Regions from separate parts of the Homo sapiens genome. Here region 1 is linked to region 2. Evidence: fine-mapped expression QTL. A gene starts in region 2. The other region holds a variant in brackets. All regions are shown on one strand. Distances are between the middles of the regions. Region 1 overlaps GABPB2 (GA binding protein transcription factor subunit beta 2). Region 2 holds the start of BNIPL (BCL2 interacting protein like).

Region 1 (2,733 bases), 76 kb after region 2:
GATCCACCCGCCTCGGCCTCCCAAAGTGCTGGGATTACAGGTGTGAGCCACCGCGCCCGGCCTAATTTTTGTATTTTTAGTAGAGACAGGATTTCACCATGGTCTCGAACTCCTGACCTTGTGACCCACCTGCCTCGGCCTCCCAAAGTGCTGGGATTACAGGCATGAGCCACTGTGCCCGGCCTTTAATTTTCATATATGAAGAGCTAACATGGTTTTTAATTGGGTGCATGCCTTGGATAATCCATTCAAGAGAGATCACTTAGTCCAATTTAATGAAACCTATATCCTGTGGCTGGGCGCAGTGGCTCACACCTGTAATCCCAGCACTTTGGGAGGCCGAGGCGGGCGGATCACGAGGTCAGGAGATCGAGACCATCCTGGCTAACATGGTGAAACCCTGACTCTACTAAAAATACCAAAAATTAGCTGGGCGTGGTGGTGGGCGCCCGTAGTCCCAGCTACTCGGGAGGCTGAGGCAGGAGAATGGCATGAACCCGGGAGGTGGAGGTTGCAGTGAGCCGAAATCACGCCACTGCACTCCAGCCTGGGCGACAGAGCGAGACTCCATCTCAAAAAAAAAAAAAAAAAAAAAAAACCTATATCCTTCATGTACTGATGGAAAGGCTGACGGTATATATTGAGGCCATATTTCCGGATCAGACTGTGCTGATTTTTTCTTTTTGTTGTTGTTTTTGTTTTTGTTTTTTGAGATAGAGTCTCACTCTGTCGCCCAGGCTGGAGTGCAATGGTGTGGTCTCAGCTCACTGCAACCTCTGCCTCCCGGATTCAAGCGATTCTCCTGCCTCAGCCTCCTGAGTAGCTAGAATTATAGGCGTTTCCCACCATGCCCGGCTAATTTTTTGTATTTTTAGTAGAGACAGGGTTTCACCATGTTGGTCAGGCGGGTCTTGAACTCCTGACCTCATGATCTGCCGGCCTCGGCCTCCCAAAGCACTGGCATTACAGGTGTGAGCCACCGCACCTGGCCGACTATGCTGGTTTGAGCAGACATGACAAGAGCAAGAACCCTGGCCAAATTTTTGTGGGTGGCTCCAGTAGAGCTGCTGGTAACCCATCTTGCTCTCAAGAGTGCAACGAGGTAAAAGGAAGGAGCTCCCGAATTTTTTTTTTCTTTTTGAGACAGAGTCTCGTTCTATCACCAGGCTAGAGTGCAGTGGCATGGTCTCGGCTCACTGCAATCTCTGCCTCCCAGGTTCAAGTGATTCCCCTGCCTCAGCCTCCTGAGTAGCTGGGACTACAGGTGTGCACCACCACGCCTGGCTAATTTTTTTTTTTTTTGTATTTTAGTAGAGACAGGGTTTCACCATGTTGGCCAGGATGGTCTTGATCTCTTGACCTAGTGATGTGCCCACCTCAGCCCCTAAAGTGTTGGGATTATAAGCATGAGCTACTGCGCCTAGCCCCTCA[AT/A]TTTTTTTTTTAATAGAAATGAGGTCTTGCTAAGCTTCCCAGGCTGGTCTCAGACTCCTAGACTCAAGCTTTCCTCCCACTTTGGCCTCCCAAAATGCTGTGATTGGCCGGGTGCGGTGGCTCACACCTGTAATCCCAGCACTTTGGGAGGCCGAGGTGGACAGATCATGAGGTCAGGAGATCGAGACCATCCTGGCTAACGCGGTGAAACCCTGTCTCTACTAAAAATACAAAAAAATTAGCCAGGCCTGGTGGCGTGCACCTGTAGTCCCTGCTACTCCGGAGGCTGAGTCAGGAGAATGGGGTGAACCCCGGAGGCGGAGCTTGCAGTGAGCAGAGATCGTGCCACTGCACTCCAACCTGGGCAACAGAGGGAGACTCCAACTGCAAAAAAAAAAAAAAAAAAAATGCTGTGATTACAGGCATGAGCTACCGTGTCTGGCCAAATCTTCTGTTTTAAAATAATCATAATATATCCTAAAACGTAAATATAATTTTTAACTTTTTATTTTTAGATCATTAAAGATTCAGTACAGTTCTAAGAAATAATACAGAGAAATCTATTGCTGGGATTACAGGCACATGCCACCATGCCCACCTAATTTTTTGTATTTTTGGTAGAGACAGGGTTTTGCCATGTTGGCCAAGCTGGTCTCGAACTCCTGACCTCAGGTGATCCGCCCACCTTGGCCTCCCAAAGTGCTGGGATTACAGGCATGAGCCACCGTGCCCATCCTCTACTTTGTCATTTCAATAATGTTATATAAGTGGAATCATACAGTATACATGATTTTGAGATTGGCTTTTTTCCTTTCAGCATAATTCCCTTGATACCCATCCAAGTTGTTGTTTGAATCAATATTTCATTCCTTCTTATTGCTGAGATTATTCCATGATATGGATGTACCACAGTTTGTTTAACCATTTACCCAGTGAAGGACATTTAAGCTGCTTCCAGTTTCAGCTATCTAAAAATAAAACTGGCTGGGCACAGTGGCTCATGCCTATAATCCCAGCACTTTGGGAGGACTACGCCGGCAGATAGCTTAAGCCCAGGAGTTTGAAATCAGCCTGGACGATATGACGAAACCCATCTCTAAAAAAAAATACAAAAAAAAAAATATATTAGCCAGGCGTGCTTTTGTGTGCCTGTAGTCCCAGCTACTTGGGAGGGTCACTGGAGGCCAGGAGGTTGAGGCTGCAGTGAGACATAATTCTGCCACTGCACACCAACCTGGGTAACAGAGTGAGACTCTGTCTCATAATAAATAAATAAATAAATAAATAAAGCATTATGAACA
Region 2 (3,020 bases):
TCACTTGATTGTCTGTATTTCTGTGTGGTTGTAGCAAGGACTCAGCCTCATGTAGCACGAATAGGGGTGTGGTTCATGGCGTGTTGACCCAGCAGAGCACTCCCTCCCACTAACTTGTTCTGCATGTGTAGAGTCTCCCCATTTTTTTTAACGCAACCCTTTCCCCTTTTTCCTACCCCACAGCTCTGTTCCATGTAAGTTGCCAACAGTTTCACTGAACAGTGGGGTATGTGATGGTTTTGGCATGACATCTTCAGTATGAGGGGGACAGTTTGACTTCACTTTGAGGGTGTGATGTCTGTAGCTATGTGGAAGGTAAAAATAGTGGTGTGATCATGAACCAAAGGAATTTATGTTTTGTAACTTGGGTACTTTATTTTGCATTTTGTTATACTATTAAATAATTTTTTCCTGTTTGGGGGTCTTACTGTCTTTTTTTACAAGTGTATTCAGGCCTTTCTCTGTGATAGTTGTTTCAGTCTCCTCAAAATTGATCCCCCTTCTTCCTACTATACTTAATGTCTTCTTTCTGTTGACTCTTTTTGGGAATAAGGAGCAACAGGCTTCTGTCTCCCCTCATCCTCAGCCTCCCGTTCAACTTGTTTATTCTCCCAGAAACCTCCTTATAACATACTTCCGTTTCCCCAGTTTTCCTTATGCTTGAAAAGTAGATCCAAGATAACAGTCCTAGAAACACACACAATGGTTTCTTTTTCTTTTTTTTTTTTTTTTTGAGATGGAGTTTTGCTCTTTTTGCCCTGGCTGGAGTGCAATGGCACAATCTCAGCCCACTACAACCTCTGCCTCCCAGGTTCAAGCGATTCTCCTGCCTCAGCCTCCCAAGTAGCTGGGATTATAGGCATGTGTCACCACGCCCAGATAATTTTTTTTTTTTTTTTTTTTTTTTTTTTTTTTTGGATTTTTAGTAGAGATGGGGTTTCTCCACATTGGTCAGGCTGGTCTCAAACTCCCGACCTCAGGTGATCCGCCTGCCTTGGCCTCCCAAAGTGTTGGGATTACAGGTGTGAGCCACCACGCCCGGCCAGAAACACAACGGTTTCTACTGGTTTTTTTGCTTATTTGTGTAAAGAGCAACTTTGAGAGGGATATATGGAGTCTGGAAAGGAGAACAAATTGCCTTCCTAGACTCAACCGAGACTGGCCCCCACTAGAAAATGCACTCTCCTCCCCAAAACCCGCCCCCTCACAGGAGGCAGGGTTTTTCTTTTGGGCAAACCTGCTCCTGGGGAGAGGAGTGGCAAAACCTGTTTTGAAGATGAGGTTACCTCCCTTCCACACCTCCCTCCTTGGAGGCAAGAGCTACAACAGCTGAGACAGAAAAGAGGTAAGGAAGTGTTGGGGGCTGGGACAACCAGCTCCCCAACAACTCCTAGGTGTTTAAAGAAGGAGGCAGGAAGACTTGTGAAGATGGGAACTATACAAGAGGCAGGAAAAAAGACAGATGTTGGGTAAGTAAGATCTTGGCTCACTTGATTGGTAACAGTGAATAAACAGTCCGGAGAGACTTCCCCACCACCCAGCTCTTACTGGGTCAAATCTCGGGTTCCTCAAGGAGACAAGACTGTAAGAGAGTTTGCAGAGAAGAGATGAGGGTGGTTTTAGGTAGGAAATGTCAGTATGGTATGGAACTGGGGAACAGGATTCCAGGATAATTCCCTGGTTTAAAAATAAAGGAAGTTTCTGTAATATGTTGTACCTGATAAATCTGCCTGTGTTCTTTTATTTTCTAACCCTCACCCTCCAGAATGGCCATCAGGAAAGCTGAACCAGAACCGAGTTTAGGTCCAGGTTCTCGTTCTGGCAAATCTTTCTCCTTACCTTCTTCCTCCACCCCTCCACTTATGCCATGTTTTCCCTTAGCCACTCCCCAGCTCGGTGGAGGAAAGGCAGGCCTAACTAGGTACCGTCTTCCCGACTTTGCTCAATGATAGCTGGGTGGGTCTAGCTGGGTTCCAGCCACTTGTAATGTGGGACATCTCTCACCCCAACTTTGTAGGTGGAGCAACTGCTACAGAGGTAAATATGATTAACTTTACATTCCATCTTTCGTCTGCTCCCAAACTTAACAGCAGGTAATCTGCTTCTAGCAAGTGGTGAAGGTAAGAGAAGCATCTGTATAGGAGGCAAGAGATCTGAGTCCTTTTGAAGGCCTATCCTCTGCTCTGTATCTCAATTACTGTTCTTCATTTCAATTATTCTTACCTACTATTCAGTTCCCTTGATCTTTTCTTCTTGGGGGCTGTCTTAGGGTCAGGGAGATTGCAGAAGCACCAGAACTAGGAGCAGCCCTGAGACATGGGGAGTTGGAGCTGAAGGAGGAATGGCAGGATGAAGAATTCCCTAGGTGAGGACGTGTGAGGGTGGCTGGGAGAAGGGAGGGGTGGTCACGAATGGACGGAGGGGATGGCGCGGCGGCTCATGGCTGTAATCCCAGCACTTTGGGTGGCCGAGGCGGGTGGATCACCTGAGGTCAGGAGTTTGAGACCAGCCTGACCAACACGGTGAAATCCCGTCTCTACTAAAAATACAAAATTAGCCAGGTGTGGTGGCACATGCCTGTAATCCCAGCTACTCGGGAGGCTGAGGCAGGAGAATCACTTGAACCTGGGAGGCAGAGGTTGTAGTGAGCTGAGATTGTGCCATTACACCCGAGCTTGGGCAACAAGAGTGAAACTCTGTCTCAAAAAAAAAAAAAAAAAAAAAAAAAAAAAGCAAATGGACACAGGGATGGTGAATTAGGACTTGAAGGAAAAAAATGGGAAAAAGAAAACAGAGGCCGGGCGTGGTGGCTGATGCCTGTAATCCCAGCACTTTGGGAGGCCGAGGCAGGTGGATCACTTGAGCTCAGAAGTTCAAGACTACTCTGGGCAACATGGCATAACCCCATCTCTACAAAAATACAAAATTTAGCCAAGTGTGGTGGTGCACACCTGTAGGCCCAGCTACTCGGGAGGCTGAGGTGGGAGGACCGCTTGAACCCTGGAGGTAGAGGCTGCAGT

What was found.
Region 1: its variant is fine-mapped to the expression of BNIPL in whole blood (TOPMed, PIP 0.98).

Annotation. Positions count from the first base shown.
Region 1 is chr1:151,111,650-151,114,382 of GRCh38, forward strand. The region is part of intron 7 of GABPB2 (GA binding protein transcription factor subunit beta 2); the gene reads left to right. It also overlaps the pseudogene RPS29P29. Among named protein-coding and RNA genes, the nearest start is that of SEMA6C, 34 kb to the right of the region's middle. The variant AT/A (reference allele first, on the strand shown) is at 1,432.
Region 2 is chr1:151,035,298-151,038,317 of GRCh38, forward strand. BNIPL (BCL2 interacting protein like) reads left to right here and starts at 1,289. Exons shown (of 10, transcript NM_138278.4): 1 at 1,289-1,469; 2 at 2,270-2,365. The coding sequence starts at 1,429. PRUNE1 (prune exopolyphosphatase 1) reads left to right here. Exons shown (of 8, transcript NM_021222.3): 8 at 1-416.